Regions from separate parts of the Homo sapiens genome. Here region 2 is linked to region 1. The links come from fine-mapping of genetic effects on gene expression. A gene starts in region 1. The other region holds a variant in brackets. All regions are shown on one strand. Distances are from middle to middle. Region 1 holds the start of ZNF710 (zinc finger protein 710). Region 2 overlaps ZNF710 (zinc finger protein 710).

The links. PIP is the estimated chance that this variant, and not a neighbour inherited with it, causes the effect. A credible set is the group of variants that fine-mapping cannot tell apart.
Region 2: its variant is the best candidate, but not a certain one, in a credible set for the expression of ZNF710 in whole blood (TOPMed, PIP 0.64).

The regions. Positions count from the first base shown.
Region 1 is chr15:89,996,501-90,005,841 of GRCh38, reverse strand. ZNF710 (zinc finger protein 710) reads right to left here and starts at 4,518. Exons shown (of 5, transcript NM_198526.4): 1 at 4,228-4,518. RefSeq lists enhancers at 2,169-2,936, 2,937-3,705 and silencers at 3,405-3,904, 4,320-4,488, 4,897-5,066.
Region 2 is chr15:90,025,236-90,034,576 of GRCh38, reverse strand. The region is part of intron 1 of ZNF710 (zinc finger protein 710); the gene reads right to left. Among named protein-coding and RNA genes, the nearest start is that of MIR3174, 23 kb to the right of the region's middle. The variant A/T (reference allele first, on the strand shown) is at 3,807.

The sequences.
Region 1 (9,341 bases):
AATACACAAAGCACGTAGCATAATTCTGGCCTAAGACACATGATTATTATTATTCTCCCTATATTCTGAGTCCAATTCAAAACCTATTGTTTTAGGCCGGGTGCAGTGGCTCACGCCTGTAATCCCAGCACTTTGGGAGGCCGAGGCGGGCAGATCACGAGGTGAAGAGATCGAGACCATCCTGGCCAACCTGGTGAAACCCCGTCTCTACTAAAAATATAAAAATTAGGCTGGGTGTAGTGGCGCATGCCTGTAGTCCCAGCTACTCAGGAGGCTGAGGCAGGAGAATCGCTTGAAGCCAGGAGGCGAAGGTTGCAGTGAGCTGAGATCGCGCCACTGCACTCCAGCCTGGTGAAAGAGTGAGACTCCGTCTCAAAAAAAGAAAAAAAAAATCTAAAAAAACCTATTGTTTTGCACAAGTCTCCACCCAGGGGCTCCACCCCATTCAGGATCCTCTCTTCCCAGCCCCCTCCTGCCTCACCTGTCTGGAGCTTGTTTGAAGCAATGACTCACAGCACAACTCTGCAGCTCCCATCAATCACCTCCCTGTCCCTGCCTGTGTCATTCATGGGTTCCTTCTGGCAGGCAAATCTTCCCTAATGTCCAGTACATTCATTCAGCAAGTATCTACTGAGGGCCCACTATAGATCAGACCCTATTCTAGGCACAGGGGCTCCGCAATGAACAAAGCAAAGACGTCTACCCTCACAAACGTTCTAGTACATTTAACCCACAGATGGAAATCAGTTCAGGTCTTGGGTCCTTACACTCCTTCTCTTCTCTCCTGACCAATCCTAAATAAATCACATACAAGTCAAAGTATGAAGAAAGCATTCCAGATCAAAAAATGGTGTGATGTGAGAAAATCCCGATGACTAAACTGCTTCTCTGATTGTTGGACTTTGAAGAAGTCAGTGTTGAAACAGCCTGAATCACCCAGTTCCCCCTAGTTGTCTCACTGGCCAGTCACATCCTCCAGCACAGTTTCTGTAACACATCTGGAAAATGAGGCGCTCCATTTACCCAACTCGTGTGCGGCGTGAGCGCACGGTTTCATGCTCTCATAGCTACATTCTTTGAAGTGAGCTTGATTCGGGATCCCCAGCAGTAGCAGAGACAGTGGCCTTGTAGAAACAGCACTGGGAACAGGCTCTGAAAGCTCAGGTTGAGTGCTGGCTCTGCCACTTACTGTGTAATCCTGGGTACAGAGCTTTCTTCCTGCCTCAGTTGCTTTCAGACAATCTCTAAGGCCTTCTTCCAGCTTTGAAGTCAAAGGGCTGGGAGCAAGCACCATTAACAGCAGGCCCAGCACATTCACAGATTCCTTATTTCAACATAATGAGTCCTGCCGCGGGCTAGGCCCTGGCTAGGCCTGAGGAACGAGGGTATGGGAGGGGTCAGCAAGCCAGATTATGAGCCTGCGCCAAGCATCAGCACTGGTGGGGCCAGGGAGCTGACTTCACTTGTCTCCTCCAAGATGCGCTGGACTCCTCCTTTATTTATTTATTTACTCCCTTCTAGAAAGAAGTTGTGCTTCTTTCCAAACACAACTCTGCTAGAAATATCTCTGGGCCACAAGGCAAACCTAAAATAGAAGTGCAAAATCTCTGGTGGTCCCATTAGTCTCCCTTCCTCCAACTCAAAAACCATTCCAGACCTTGTCTGTCTCCTTGTCTCTAGACAGTGAGCCTAAAATAAGTCTCCCTGGTAGGAAATGCCTGGTTGGAATGGAAATGACCCAAGCCCTGGAAAAATGGCCCGCTGACCACACACCGTGGGCTGAGGACTCACCCAGGTATCAGCTCTGAGAAGACAAGCAAGTGAGCCCGCGTCCCACTTCAACTCACTGCAGCCCCCTCCACCAAGACACAGGCAACCAGGCCAGGCTGGAGGAAGAAAATGTGACCCAAACATCCAATTCCCCCTACCCAAAAGAAAGCAGCTCTATCCCCACGGCCCTCATGCAGGAAAGCCAGCTCCAGAAGGTCACTGGGGCACCAGGTGGGCACCTCTCTGGAGCTACAGATGACCGATCAGAGGTTCTGCTCCGAGACTGGCAGGTACCCAGCACAGTTACCCTGGCCTGAGGGTCAGCTAATAAAACCAATGAGAAAGTATAGAAAATAACATTCTCTTTAAAACAAATGAGAAAGGAATGGCCACTCTAGGTTTTCAGAAGTCAAAACCAGATAGCCCCATCGGCTTTGATCACATTAGGAATACACTGTCTCTTATCTAACGAGTTAAGAACGGTTTTCTTCTTCCCTTCTCCCACGTGGCCCCATTGGTTCTCTAGGCCCCCTGGTGAAGATGCAATAGGGACACAGACCCCCAGCCCTCTACTTGGCAGAAATGAACTTTGACTGGTTTTACTTACACGTGTACAAATGCAGGACTGAGAGGGCAGCTTCAAAGCTGGCTGAGTGACCCCCAAGAGCACAAAGTCCTTCTCCGCACACCTGTGGGGGAGTTTTGTGAATTTCCCAGATGCCCACAGGGACTAGTTATGTACACTGCAGGTCGATACCGGCCGGGAGTTTCCATTTTGCACAGCAAGAAAGGTGCTCAGGGTGCCCTTTGCAGGTGGGCACTCGGCCTGCAGCTCAAGGGTGGGCCATGACGTTGGTCCCTCACTGGATTGCCCGGCAGGCCTCCCTCAGACCCAGTAGGACGAGTACCTCGAAGAGTCCTTGTGATCCCAGCACTTTGGGAGGCCGGGGCGGGCGGATCACGAGGTCAGGAGTTTGAGACCAGCCTGGCCAATATGGTGAAACCCCGTCTCTCCTAAAAATAATTAAAAATTAAACGGGCGTGGTGGCGTGCGCCTGTAGTCCCAGCTATTGGGGAGGTTGAGGCAGGAGAATCGCTTGAACCCGGGAGACGGAGGCTGCAGTGAGCCGAGATCGCGCCACTGCACTCCAGCCTGGGCGACAGAGCAAGACTCCATATCAAGAAAAAAGAAAAGGCACCCCGGATACTGCTACGCCTTGCCCTAACCGTCTCGCAAATCCTAGAGATACATGAATGACCCTTTCAGGTTGGTTAAAATCCACACAAGCACCTCCCTGGCCTCTTAAATCTTTCCAAACTACAGCTTAGACTGGAGGGAAGCAGTTGCAGCGCCCATAAAAGTCATCTTAAAAGGCAAGTTGGAAAAAAACCCGATACGCACTAGTTAGCAAGTCCGCGGTGAAGGGGGCGGTGGCCCAAGGGCCGGATCTGCGGGATCTGTGCGCCTAGGGTGGGGAGGCTGGGGCTGCCCCGTCGGTCCCCGAGCCCGCGCGCCCACCTGGTAGCCTGAGGGCCCCGATCTGACGCTGGTGCTCACGCCCCACAGCTCCATCCAATTAGGAAAATGACCGCGAGAAGACGGAGAGAGGGCGACGAGGAGGAAGGGGGGCTGAGCCGCGGGAGGCTCAAGACGGGCCGTAGGGACCCCGCCCGCCACCCCCACCCCCACGCCCCCAGACAGCGAGCGCCGGTCCTGGGTCCCCGGCCCGCGGCGCCCCGACGCTGTCCCGGCGGAGATCCCGCGGCGCCCAGCGTGCGGCGGCCAGTGGCCCTCGGGGACGCCCCCAGCCCCGCCAGCGGCGCGCTCAGCTCTCCCCCACCCCCGGCCGGCTGGGACGCGCAACAACCCCACCCGCTCCGAGAATAAAGTTTGTGGGCAGCCGTAGGGGCGGGGCGGCGAGGGGGTGAAACTTTGAGTCCCGGGCCGGGTGTGGGGGGAGCGCACCCAGCACCGGGACACCCACGTGCGGGCCCGAGAGCCTCCGCCACCGTCGCCTCCCGGGCCTCCCGCGCCGCCGCCGCCGCCGCCGCGACGCTTTCCTTTCATTTTTGCCTCTCTCTCTCTCTCTCTCTCTCTCTCTCTCATTCGCGCGCTCTCCTCCCTCTCGCCCTCTTTCGCTCGCTCCCTCCCTCTCCCTTCCCCCTCCCCCTCCTCTCCCTCCCCCCCACCCCAGACGCCATCTCTCCCTCTTTCCCCGGCTCTCCCTCTCTCCCTCCAGCTCTCCGGCATGAGGGAATGTGGAAGTGAAAGGAAAAGACGACATGTTTGCAGCGCGGCGCGGGCCTGCGCGCGGCCGTCCCCAGGGAGAGGCGGGGGGCGGGTCGGCCGCGGCCGCAGCGACCCACCCCCGCGCCCCCCGCGCCCCCGCCGGCCGGCAGCGCGGGGCTGCGGGGCTGGGGCTGGGGCTGGGGCGGGGGGCCGCGCGGGACACTCACCCTGGGTCCGGGCGCGGCTCCTGCGCTGGGGCCCTCGGCGGGCCGGGCCGGGCCGGGCCGGGGGCTCCTGGCTGCCCACCGCCCGGGCTGCTGCTGTGCGCCCGCCGCCCGCCTCCACGCGCGCCCGCCGCCTGCTCCTGCCGCCCTCCCTCCGGCTCCTCTCTTTCTCTCTCTCCCCCCTCCTCTCGCTCGCTCTCTCGCTCGCGCTCTCTCCCTCCCTGGAAGAAGGGAATGAGGCAGGGCTGACGTGAAGGGATGCAAAACAGCTCCTCCTAAGCCAGCTCGCAGAGGAAGAGAGAGACAGAAAAGCAGCCCTTTTATCTCTCTTTTGTTTTCTCACTTCCTTCCACCCCCAACACCTCCCTCTTGTCAGCCCAAGTTTTCTTTTCTCTTTCTACCGCAGAGGATTTTTCTTCCTTTCTTTCTCTTTCTTTCGGTTCAACTCTCCCACTCGAATTGAAAGCCTGAAGGGTTTTCTTTCTCCTGTTTTTTTCTTCCCTCTTTTCTTCCTTCTTCCTCCTTTCTTATTTCTCTAAAAGGGTTTTGTTTGCTGTGGGAGTTTCGTTTGAAAATCAAGTCACGCCTTTTTTCCTTCTTTTCTTTCTTTCTCTCTCTCTCTTTTTTTTTTCTCCTCTCAGCAGAAAAGGGGAACAAAGATTAACTGAAGCGGGGAAGAGGCAGACCTCGCTTGGAAATGGGGGGCCCGGCCCTGTCCGGTACAAAGGGGGCCCGGGGGCCCTGCGCCCCGCCCCCCCCAAGGGAAGCCAGGGGCGTCCTCTGGAGAGGAGAGCCGGTGCGGGTGTTGGGGCACGGGTGCGGCTCCTGGGTGCCGGTTCCTTCCCAAGTGCGAGCGAGGGCCGCCGAGCCCGCCCCTCCCCAGCCAGAGGTGGCAAGCTGGGTGTGTGTGCTTCACTTATGTATTTTTAAAGTAGGCAGATGGGCCTGGAACAAACATCCCCGCAGAGCACTGAACAGCAAAAGCCTTTAAACAGCTGTTAGCAGAGCCCTGGACGGCCTGACTCGAGGGAGCGGCGCGGGCTCCGAGCGCCAGGGCCCGGGTGGAGAAGGGGCTCAGGGCAGCTGCTGGGATCGGCGGGCTGGCGGGGTCCCCGAGCCCAGGGCCTGGGCCTCGGCCCCGGGGCGCACTGCTGGGGGGCGCCGAGGCGTGGTCGCTGGCAGCGCGGCCGTCAGGTCCCTCTCGGCTCCCTGAGGGGCCGCGGGGTTTGGCACAGCCTCGCCGCCCTCCAGCTCCGGCGCAGGCCGGACACCAGGCCTCCAACCTCCAGAACACCCGCCACTCCGAGCCGTTTCTCGACTGCAACGCAGGGCGGGTCCGGAGCCCTCGGACAGAGCCGGGCAGTGCCGCCAGGAAGGGTCAATTATTCATGGGGCGCCCGGGCGTGCTCCCAAGACCTGCTCTGTCCTCGGGTTCTCCGGAGGAGTGGGGAGAAGACGGGGGAAAGTTCCCAAAGCAAAGTTGGTCACATTTGTCATTTTCCCAAGTAAGTATTGAGCACCTGCTGGATGCCGGGCCCTCGGACTGGGGCTGCAGCCAGGGGGAGAAACGTGAGGTCTCGGTGGGCCCCGAGAGCAAACTCAGGGAACAATGCAAGGGAAGCTGCGGCTCAGGACCAGGTCACCGGGAGGAAGGAAAGCCTGGATCCTCTCCCCTCCCTCTTCCCTTCCTTCCCTTCCCTTCCTTCCTCCCGGCTGCATCTCCTTGGCTCCACCCCTTCTCCTCATCAATTCCTCCCACACTTCCCTGCTCTCCCTGGCTTTTCACTGAAGGGTCCCTTCTCCCAGGGAGGAGCAGATGCTGAGCCCCATTGTCTCTCCCCCAGTGACTGCAGCCTCCCGGGGACACGACCTGCCACTCCTCACCCCTCCCCCCAGCCCTGAGCCCTGGGCCTTTAGAAACGAGAGCCCCAAGGCCACGGCCCCTCGCCCCACCCTAAACCAGCTCCTGGTGCTCTGAGCTATGACTCCAGTCACTCAGAACACATTTGTCTCTGACGAGGAGTGAGGAAACAGTAGCCTGAGAGTTTGGTTCAACAAGAAGGACACCATGGTCTTTTAACATCAGCACCCTGAGCCCCCAATGACCCCAGGGCCTTTGCCCAGGTCTGCAGGAAACCACATTTCCGTCATCACTTGCAGCCTCCCACTTAGTACACCCAAGCTGCATCCTCCAAAAAAGCAGAATGCAGCTCTTAGAGCCAAGCATGCACTTAACAAATGCCTACTGAGTACCTACCCCGTGCCGGCGAAGGTGCTGGCTGCTGAGGACCGAATCATCAGCAAGACGCAGTCCTTGCTTTGGCCTTTGGCTTTGCAGGCGAAGGAGCAAGAAAAGAAGACAGCAACCTCAGTGCCATGCGATACAGGCAAGAGTGAACCAAGAAAGCTCCTAAGAGGGTGCTTGGACTAAGGTGGTCAGGTGTGGCTTCCTGGAGGAGGTCGTGTCTAGATTAGGCTGTGCTAGCCAAATGCATGGGAGAGAACAGTCTGTCCAAAGGCCCCAGGGCAAGACGGCACATTATTACAGGTTCTTAGAACTGTCAAGAGTTGAAGTGTTTACTGCAGCTTAGAATACAAGTGGGTGGGGGGAGAGTGAGGATAGAGCACAAGTGGGAAAAAGGGGAGGGTGTCAGGGAAATATTCAGATTTTAGCCCCTCCCACTTGCTAACTTCATGAATGTAAATGAATAACATAACTTCAGTGAATAACTTCGACTTAATTTCGGGACATATAAAATGCAGGTAAGAAGACCTGTGGATTGCAGAGACAGTGTCTTAGTTTAAGGGCCCAGGCTTACCTGCTGCATATTCCTGGGCAAGTCAACCTCTCTAACTTTTCTGTAAAATAGGGATAAAAATACCTGCTTCACAGTTTGTTGTGAGGCTCAAACCCCACACCTAGCATGGTGTCCGGTACATAAGCACCAATCCCCGGTAGCTTTTATTTACTATTACTACAAATCAGGGAGTGACTGGGTAGTGCCCCGATGACCTGGAAATAAGATTACGTTCAGGGTTGAAACCAGAGTGACTCACCACACCAGAAACATGATGAGCTGACTGAGGGGGAAGCATTCCTTCAAAGATGACCAGTGTCCCACTGGGAGGCTGGGATTGGTGAACACCACATCCGATCAAGATGGCCAGGTGGCTTCTCAGGAACATGACCAGAGCTTGATGACTGGTTATCAAGGCCCAGCCTGATCAGCAGAGTTGTAGCCTGCCTGAGGAACAAATAGGAATCAGGAGAGGATGGGCCTCATGAAATCCAGGAAGGCCCCTGGGAGCAGGCACCTGGCTATGTTTGCTCAGGAGAGAGACGTAATCACAGAAGTTTGCACTGGAGGAGCAGGGGAGGGATAGGGGGTGATTATTGACTTCTCCACAACGTGATTTAAAGCTCCCAAAACCTCTTAGTCCTTTGGTTGGATTATTGGTTCTCCAAGTGACCTGCACATGAACTTGGCACCAGCCAAATGCCCTCAAGGATCCAGGCAGATACCACAGCTCCAGTTCCTGCTTTGTAAACATTTTACACTTCTATTATTTCTTTCGTGAGTGGGAGTCTCGCTCTGTCACCCATGCTGGAGTGCAGTGGCACGATCTTGGCTCACTGCAACCTCCGCCTCCTGGGTTCAAGCGATTCTCTTGCCTCAGCCTCTCGAGTAGCTGGGATTACAGGTATGTGCCACCACACCCAGCTAATTTTTTTTTTATTTTTAGTAGAGACAGGGTTTTGCCCTGTTGACCAGGCTGGTCTCAAACTCCTGACCTCAGGGGATCTGCCTGCCTCGGCCTCCCAAAGTGCTAGGATTACAGGCATGAGCCACTGCGCCCAGCCCTCTGTTATTTCTTTACAACACAAGTTCATTGTGAAAGAATTCGAAAACGAACCCTATCTAGAGACATATTTCGGTGTATATCCTTGGACATTTTATATCCTAGTGGCTACATGTAAGTGCACACCATAATAAAACTGTACAAAGTCAATATCATTAAGCAAATGATGACTCTATGTATAAGCATGTTATTTTTACAAAATTAACAAAAATGGCATAACACTACACCTACTGAATTGCAGCTACTTTCACCCGGTATATGTCACAAATTATCTTCTGGTCTGTAAACATCCACATTCTTCTTTGGATACAGGGTCTTGCTCTGTCAGCCAGGTTGGATTACAGTGGCATGATCATAGCTCACTGCAGCCTCGAACTTCTGGGCTCAAGCCATCCTCCCACCTCAACCTCCCGAGTAACTAGGGTTACATTTGTGTGCCACCATGCTCGGCTGTATTTTTTCTTTTTGTTTTTTGGTACAGACTGGGTCTTGCTATGTTGCCCAGGCTGGTCTCGAACTCCTAGGTTCAAGCAATCCTCCTGCCTCAGCCTCTCAAAGTGTGGGGATTACTGGCATAAGCCACCTCACCCAGCCCACATTGTCATTCTTAGTGAATGATATTATTCCATGGTATGTGTGTATCTTAATTTGTTTAAACAAATTGTTAGACTCATGGGATGTTTGCAGGTTTTTCGCTTTTATGAACCTGCTTTGATAAACATACCTGTACAGCCACCTTAGTGCGAGGCTGGGCTAAGCACTTTATTTGAGGTAGGTGTCATTATCATTTTACAGAGGAGGAGGCTGAGGCACCGAAAAGCTTAAAAACTTCCTAAGGTCACTACCATGGAGTGTCTGAGCCAGAATGTGTAGACAGGGTTTCCCTTTGGGAATTCTCTTTCAACATGTTTTCCCCTCTTTAGAGTCTCCTCCACTTTCCATACCAATTTCCTCTCTTACAGATTACCTCCCTGTGAGAACCTGTCTGGACAGGTGACCCACTTCCTTTTGTGACACCTTTTTAACTTAAATAATGCCCACCTTCTAGGGTTGTTGGGAGAAGTGGAAGCCGATAATATATGATGTGTAATGTATGATACTGTATTTTGTAAATTTCAAAGCCTATGTGAACGTTAGAAGGTCCCAGTGAGGCCCTAAGCTTGCAGACATCACTATTTAGCCAAATCTCCTGACTTGCCCAAACCCAGCAAGGAATCCTCCAGATTCACACCAGAAAGAAAGAAATCAGCTTTTTT
Region 2 (9,341 bases), 29 kb before region 1:
GGCCCTCCAGGAACTGAGTTAATCAGCAGGAAACCGATGGTTGTTTCCTGACAACCCTGCTGCTGCCGACACCATGGCCACCACCACCACAGGCACAGAATACACACACACACACACACACACACACACACACACACACACACACACAGGAATTTGGAAACAGGAAGGACAGCTGGCAACTTCTGGGGACCCACAATGCAATCCACTTTTTCAAATAACATAGACAAAACAGCACAAAGAATTCCTCCCTTTCCTGAGTGCAGACCATGTGTAGAGCCTCTTGCATGTGATATCTTGTTTCTATCTGGCAGAAGAACCCCTCCAGGAGTGACTGTCGTTCACCTGTTTTCTTTTCTTTTCTTTTCTTTTCTTTTTTTTTGAGACAGAGTCTCACTCTGTCACCCAGGCTGGAGTACAATGATGCGATCTCGGCTCACTGCAACCTCTGCCTCCTGGGTTCAAGCGATTCTCCCACCTCAGCCTCCCGAGTAGCTGGGACTACAGCTGCTACCACGCCCAGCTAATTTTTGTACTTTTAGTAAAGACAGGGTTTCACCATGTTAGCCAAGCTGGTCTTGAACTCCTGACCTCAAGTGATCTGCCTGCCTCGGCCTTCAGAAGTGCTGGGATTACAGGCATGAGCCACCGCATCCAGCCATTCCCATTTTCTAAACTCTGAGGGGCAAAGAAAGAAAGTCAGTGGGCCAAGCTTGCACAGCTGGTAGCGCCCACGTTTCCATACCCAGGCCAGGCAGGACTCAGAAGGCCATCTCTTAAACCACCTTGCTCTGCCTTGAATCAAGGAGTTTCTCCCCAGGCTCTGTGACCAGAGTCAAACCAAGTCTATGGGACAAGCTGGGCATGGTAGCGAATGCCTATGGTCCCAGCTACTTGGGAGGCTGAGTTGGGAGGATCGCTCAGGCCCAGGAGGTCAAGGCTGCAGTGAGCTATGATCATGCCTGTGAACAGACACTGCACTCCAGCCTGGGCAACAGAGTGAGAACCTGTCTCTAAAAAAACAGGAAAAAGGAACATATGGGACAAGGCAGAAGGCTCAACGTGGAGTAGCCGGCTAGCCTAGGAGCCAACCCCTTTCTGCCTGAACTGGCCTGTTGGGATCTCGAGGGTGAAGTGGGAGCGAGAAGACTTCTGCCTGTCCAACTCTTCTCCTGCTTTCCACTTCCTAAGCTTAAAAAGCACACCTCCCGCTGCAAACTTTCCCCACCTTTAACATCCCCAGTGCTTCTCAAACTCTGTGGTGAAAGGTCAGTTTGATTCATCTTAATCCTTAATCCCTCTCAGATCTAACATCAACAAGCAGTTTAGTCCTGAGTCCTGCCACGTGGGGTCAACAGTGCTCACCCTGGCCCACACGCTGTTCGAGATGAAGCCACCAATCGCCCATTTGGATGTCATCCTGCCAATGTCAAACTACAGAAGTTTCTAAACACCAATCCCATTTTCTATGTTTAGCTCCTCCTCTTGCTTGGTTAACATTGTGCAGAACAGCACTGGTGCATGGCCCATACTTTTGTGGGGCACTGGCCTAAGAATACACAAGAATGTTTATAAATTAAAGAATTTTAAATGCAGATATATATTTCCTCTTAAGTGAAAATTCTAGCCACAGAGCCTCAAATTTCAAACACACACTTTTTTTTTCTTTTTTTAGAAACAAGTTCTTGCTATGTTGTCCATGCTGGCCTTGAACTCCTGGACTCAAGGAATCCTCTTGCTTTAGCCTCCTGAGTAGCTAAGACTATACAGGCCAAACACACATTCTTTTTTTTTTTTTTTTTTTGAGATGGAATCTCACTCTTGCCCAGGCTGGAGTGCAGTAGCACAATCTCAGCTCACTGCAACCTCTGCCTCCTGGGTTCAAGCAATTCTCCTGCCTCAGCCTCCCAAGTACCTGGGATTACAGGTGCCCACCACCATGTCCAGCTAATTTTTGTATTTTTAGTGGAGATGGGGTTTTGCCATGTTGGCCAGGCTGGTCTCGAACTCCTGACCTCAAGTGATCCTCCTGCCTAGGCCTCCCAAAGTGCTGTGATTGCAGGCATGAGCCACCGTGCCCAGCCCCAAACACACATTCTTAATTGTTACTTTTTGGGGGCCATTTAATTTTCCAAGTTCATCCAATCTGCCTCTCCTCTCTCTTAAAAATAGAAAATAATACATTTAAATGTCCTGGAATTTACATTCAACCACATGTGATCTGCTGAGTTCCATGGAGCTGAGGTTGAAAGAGAACGTTCTGTTAATGAGAAATTCACAGTGGCTGGACACAGTGGCTCACGCCTATAATCCCAGCACTTTGGGAGACCGAGGCGGGAGGATCACCTGAGGTTGGGAGCTCGAGACCAGCCTGGCCAATATGGCAAAACTCTGTCTCTACTAAAAATACAAAAATTAGCTAGGCGTGGTGGCAGGCGCCTCTAATCCCAGCTACTTGGGAGGCTGAGGGCAAGAGAATTGCTTGAACCTGGGAGCCAGAGGTTGCAGTGAGCTGAGATCGCGCCACTGCACTCCAGCCTGGGCGACAGCGAGACTCCGTCTCAAAAAAACAGAAATTCACAGTCAATACTCAGTACACAATATAATGTTAGTAGCTGGATGGCTTCCTTCAGATGAAAATGGGCTTTAGTCGATACTAGCCCAAGTATCTGCAGGTTTAATTTCAGAATAAAAAGCCACTGTAACAGTTCATAGCTGGCCCAAGCTGGCCGTAACAACACTGGCACCTAGGAATACCTGAGGGTATTTTAAGGTGCAGGCACTTGGTTCCCACCCACCCAGATCCAGTGGATTTGGGGCTGGACCCAGGCAACTGCATTTTAACAAGCTCCCCAGCAGAGAGTGAGAGATGACGTGGCCACTGAAGATGCCCCTGCTGCATGAAAACAAGAGAGATGGGCTATGACCAGTGGCTCACAAGAATTGGTCTTGGGAATGCAAAACAAGCAAAAACAAAACCAACCGGGTTTCTCCCATGGGGCAAGTGCTGTGCAAAGACCTGGTGTTGAGAGACCAGAGTTACAGTTTTTTAGAACTTCCTGTGTGTCCTCACTTAACCTCTCTAGTCTTCCGATTTCCTCAAAGGAGACAGGACAAATGAGAGCGCTGCTTCTCAAATGTGCTGAGGAATCACCCGGGGATCTTGCTAAAATGCAGATTCTGCTTCAGCAGGTCTAGGGTGCTGTGAGAGATACTTCGTTTCCATTAATAATAAGCTCCCGGGTGATGCTGCATCCTGGATCCCCCCAGGGTACATTTCAATCCCGAGAGTCTATGATTAGTCACTATATTCACACAGCTTATGTGTTCTTTTTCATTCACTTCAATCAATGTGTTGGATTAAACTCACAACTATTATTCTCATTTATGAACAAAACCCATCACCACCAACTGTCGGGTCCACAACCTCTTGAGATGAGCCTAAGCCTCCAATTCAAATGTTTCTTTAAAGAAAGAAAAAGAAATGGCCATTTTGTATTTGTTGGTATCCATTTGTTACCAAACAATCCATTAAGCATTTTTTTTTTTTTCTTTTTTTTTGAGACGGAGTCTCGCTCTGTCGCCCAGGCTGGAGTGCAGTGGCGGGATCTCGGCTCACTGCAAGCTCCGCCTCCCGGGTTCACGCCATTCTCCTGCCTCAGCCTCCCAAGTAGCTGGGACTACAGGCGCGCGCCACCATGCCCGGCTAATTTTTTGTATTTTTTTAAGTAGAGACGGGGTTTCACCGTGTTAGCCAGGATGGTCTTGATCTCCTGACCTCATGATCTGCCTGCCTCGGCCTCCCAAAG[A/T]GCTGGGATTACAGGCGTGAGCCACCGCGCCCAGCCAATTTTTTTTTTTTTAATTTGAAATGACCCTCTCTGCAGCACAGATACAGCTCTTTCCTACTGGGCATATGTGACTGCCCTGTTGGGAAGGTGGCTTCATATTCCCACCCAGATGGGCCTGCTTGGTGCCCCCTCCCCCACTGGTTAACACACACTCTGTGCGCACATGTTCAGAGTGTTCGGCCAGGGCCTGGCACATGATAAGCATTCAACTCCTGCCAGCTGTTTCGTTCAGAGACAAGGAAATGAAAGCCCAGAAGGCTTACGATTTGCTGAAAGTCAAGTTCTTGGCAAAACCAAGACCGGCCTTGAAACCCATCCCTCCTTCCTCTGTGCCTCAGTTTCCTCATCTATAAAATGGAGCTGATAGCTAATTCTTTCTTTTTTTTTTTTTTTTTTTTTTTTGAGATGGAGTTTTGCTCTTGTTGCCCAGGCCGGAATGCAATGGCGTGATATTGGCTCACTGCAACCTCTGCCTCCCAGGTTCCAGTGATTTTCCTGCCTCAGCCTCCCAAATAGCTGGGATCACAGGCATGCACCACCACATCCGGCTAATTTTGTATTTTTAGTAGAGACGGGGTTTCACCATGTTGGCCAGGCTGGTCTCGAACTCCTGACCTCAGGCGATCCATCCGCCTCAGCCTCCCAAAGTGTTGGGATTACAGGTGTGAGCCACTGTGCCCGGCCGATAGCTAATGCTAATGGCTGTTGTGAAAATTAAATAAGGAATGTCTGTAAATGCACTTAGGCTGGCACTTAATAACTGCTCATATGATTGTGATTATCAAGCTTGATCTTTTTAATTACTAAAAAGTTTTTTGGCCAGGCACGGTGGGTCACGCCTGTAATCCCAGCACTTTGGGAGGCCGAGGTGGGCGGATCACCTAAGGTCAGGAGTTTGAGACCAGCCTGGCCAACATGGTGAAACCCCATCTCTACTAAAAATAGAAAAATTAGCCGGGCATGGTGGCATGTGCCTGTAATCCCAGCTACTCGGGAGGCTGAGGCAGGAGAATCACTGGAACCCGGAGGTGGAGGTTGTAGTGAGCCAAGATCAAACCACTGCACTCCAGCCTAGACGACAGAGTTGAGACTCTGTCTCAAAAACAAAACAGAACAAAAAATTTTTTTGTAGAGACTGGGTCTTGCTACCTTTCCCAGGCTGGTCTCAATCTCCTGGCCGCAAGCGATCCTCCCACCTTGGCTTCCCAAAGTGCTAGGATTACATGTGTGAGCCACCATGCTTGGTCTATTATCAAGTTTGAAAGTCCCAGAATGACATAAAATCCATTCCCGTTTGAGTTGGAGTTTGTTCATTCTCTGTGGTTTGTATCAGCACTAACTGCCCTGGTGATGTCAAATGGCCAGAAGGGCCCCTACACCTTGCTGGGACCTTTTAGGTTGGACCAGGAGAGCTCACCACCCTGTAAATATATCCCATGACACACACCTGGCTGGTGCTCTCCCAGAGAAACCTTCTCCAGCTGAGGGAAACCCTGTGCAAATATGTTCCTGGGTCAAAGTCCTCTGAGAGGTTTCCCAGTGGGCACTCATTCCACACCCACATTTATTATCTCTATAATTGCCAGGCATGGGAGTAGGCGTTGGGAAAAAGTAAGAGCAATAAACAGAGCACAGCCTTTCCCTGCCATGAGCTTACTAAACTGTAAATAACTTGCTTTTAAATTAACATTTTCCATTATAAAATTAATAAAACCACCCATTACAAAAGGTTTGAAAAAGACGGATGAGAAAAACATGAATACTCCTTCTCACCCTAATGCAACCACTTCTTGTGTATTTCTTCCCAGTCCTCTTCATGCATGTGTTTTTCACATGGTTTTGATCACAGTGTATACAATCTGGTGTCCTACTTGTTTTCCCTTATCTGGATGCCACAAGCAATTTTCCATCTTGCATGTCCGTAATCGATCACCCATGTTCATAGTCACACCGTTCACACACATCCCCATTTGCCTGCCAATTCTTGCACTGGAGGACATTGAGATTGCTTCCCGTCTGTCCACACTGCCCAACAAATCACCTCCATGCATTCACGCACAGAGAAGATAAAGGGAAGAGGCAAATGTCAGGTAATTTGATGGTGTCAGAAGGGACTTGGTGAATAATGACACTGTGTCAACTGGGGCAAGTTACTTAACCTCTCTGAACCTCAACTTCCTGTAATATGGGCAGAATTGTAAAAAGGATTTAAACAGGAGGCCATTGGTAAACTCCCAGCACAGGGCATGATCCACAATAAATGCATGTTTTCTTTTCTCTTACATATCAGCAGGTCATGTTGGTGACTCCTAAATACCTTCTCAGAGACTGGGACAATCTGCAGAGACACCCTTGGAGCACAGTGCAGCAGCTTCCCATACCCTGCATTCAGATTGCTAAGTTCTGGGTGACAGAGGATTTGTATGCGGAACTATTGAAGGGAGAAATGATGTGTGCTCTGTAACTTTCTTCAAAATGGTTCAGGAAAAAATATATATACCTGTGCAGATGAAGCAAATATGGCAAATGTTAACATCTATTATATCTCAGCCATTGGTGTATGGGTATTTACTGTTATATACTTTCAATTTTTCTCAATAGTTGAAATTCTTTCATAATAAAATCTTTTAAAAACTCTTCTAATTTAAAAAGTTAAAAATGGTATACTTTCAAAACTTGTATTGCATTCATTAATTTCTTCAACAAATATTAATTCAATAGAGTCAACAAATATTAACTCAATTTAGTATCTGTTACGCAGAACTGACCTGGTTCCTAGCCTCATGGAGCTCACCATTTGGCATTTTCTTTAGGTCGGGCATTTGTTTGCTAATTATATCGTCTGTGCATATTGTCTTCAAATTTAAATCTTTTTTTTTTTTTTTCGAGACAGTGTCTCACTCCATCACCAAGGCTAGAGTACAGTGGCACAATCTCGGCTAACTGCAACCTCCCAGGTTCAAGTGATTCTCATGCCTCAGCCTTCCGAGCAGCTGGGACTATAGGCACACACCACCACATCCAGCTAATTTTTGTATTTTTAGTAGAGACAGGGTTTTGCCATGTTGGCCAGGCTGGTTTTGAACTCCTGGCCTCAAATGATCAGCCTGCCTTGGCCTCCCAAAGTGCTAGTATTACAGGCATGAGCAAGGCCTTCAAATTTAAATCTTGATTTTTAAAAACTAATCTATATATAGGATCTTGGTAGAATTAAAATATCAATGGCTGGGCATATGGCTCACGTCTATAATCCTAGCACTTTGGGAGGCCGAGGCAGGTGGATCATTTAAGGTCAGGAGATTGAGACAAGCCTGACCAACATGGTGAAACCCCGTCTCTACTAAAAATACAAGAATTAGCCGGGTTGGTGGCACACGCCTGTGATCCCAGCTACTTGGGAGGCTGAGGCAGGAGAATCGCTTGAACCCAGGAGTTGGACATTGCAGTGAGCTGAGATCTCGCCATTGCACTCCAGCCTGGGCGACAGAGCAAGACTCTGTCTCCAAAAAAAAAACAGAAGAAGAAAAAGAAGTTACAATTTTTTAAGGTAGTCAAATCTGTTGAATTTTTTGATGACTTTTGCTATTGGTTCTAAACTTTGGAAATAAACCTCTAGCCTAAGATTTGGCAGAGGGTAAATTGTACTTACTGTTATTTAATACTTTTACTCTTTCTTTATAATATTTATATGTTTCTGTTTCAGTATTATCATGTTGACTAGAGTGTTAAAAGCAATGTTAAATAGTGATGGTGATGGCAGACCTCCTTATTTTGTTACTGGTTTCCACAAGAATGCCTCTAGTGTTTAAGTTAATTACAGAATTGGTTATTGGTTTGAAATATTTTTTATTATGCTAAGAATGCACCCTTCTGTTCCTTTTTTTTGCTGTATTGGTTAGGTAGACATGGTTGTTCAATTTAATCATTTTTCCCCAGCACATATTGGAAACAATACGGTTTTACTTTTTTAATGCATTAGCATGACGTAGTTACTATATTAAGCTTTCCTAATATTGACTATTCTTTCCTCCTGCCCCACTGGGTTATGGTGGATGACTTGTTTAATATATTATTGAATTCTATTTCCTACCCAGCATTTTCATGCTTCAAAATAGTCTCTTTGCCATGTTTAATATCAGGCTTATTTTGCTTTGTAGAATGAACTGGAGAGCTCTCCATCTTTTGCTAAGCTGTGGAACAGCTTAGCATTATCAGTATTATCAAATTCAAAATAATTAACTAGCAAAAACACTTGGGACCAGTGTCTTTGGTGGGTAGAGGGGCAATGCTTCGATAAGGATTGAAAATTTTTTCTCAATTAGCAACATATATATTTTCAGAAAAGCATGCATTTAATTGAGATTTTGAAATTATGCCTATGATTGTGCATACGTTTCTATTATTTTAAAATCTCCTCTGTATCTATTGCAATGTCCCCTTTCTCATTCCCTTTTTTTTTTTTGTTGTTGTTGTTGTTGTTTTGTTTTTTTTCTCATTTCTCCCTTTTATTTCTCAAATAGAATTGCCAGGGGTTAGGCTACTTTACTGTTTGTTTAAAAACAGAATCAGCTCTTGGATACGTTTGCTGATTTCACTGTGTTTCCGTTTCTTAATTCATTGATTTCTGCCTTTATCTTTACTATTTTTTTCCCCTCTCATTTTCCTTAGGGGCTGTTTTTATTCTTTTTTTTTCCTAAGCACTCAGGCTGAATGCTTAGTTTATTTGCCTTTTCTCTCTCCCTTTTTAATAATAAAAGCATTTAAGGCTATGAGAATAGTGCCAGCTGTCTCCCATAGGTTTGGGTATGTGGCATTCTAGTTTTCAATGCTTTCTAAATATTTGTCAGTACATTCTTTATTTCTTCCTTGAACCAATAGCAATTTAAGTGCTTTAAATTTTTTCAAGTGGTTGGGTTTTAGTTTGTTTAAATTTACAATATTTTGGCGAGGTTTACTGCATGGTGATCAAAGGACTCCCCGACTGGCACAATTTCTGTTTTGGGTAGAATATGAGTTTTTGCAGTTGGTTACTGGTAGCTGACAGAAATGTTTGCAAAGCATATGCTCACTTGTAAAGCCCATGTGCTTTTTTAAAGTTTTTGTTTGCCATAATGTTATGTCAAATGAAAAAGAAAAATGATATAAAGTTCAATGTGCTTGTAACCATGTTTAAAATACAGTGTATTTACATATATGCAATGAAAAAGGCTGTGAGGAAATACACAAAAGTACTAAATGGTGTTGGTAATTTCCAGCTTGTGAGATTATGGAGCAATTTGTACTGTCTTTACCCTTGTCTGTGTTTATCAGATTGTCTACATAAACCATAAGGTTGACTATTTTAATAATAAGATTTCTTTAAATATGTATTTGCCCAAGGTTTGGTCACAGACATGCTCTGCTGTTAGAACAGTATTTCTGCAAAACTCCCCCTGGCCAGAGAGTGAAGGAAGCCACCAAGAAGAACTTGAGGAATAATTGGATTTAGACCCAAAA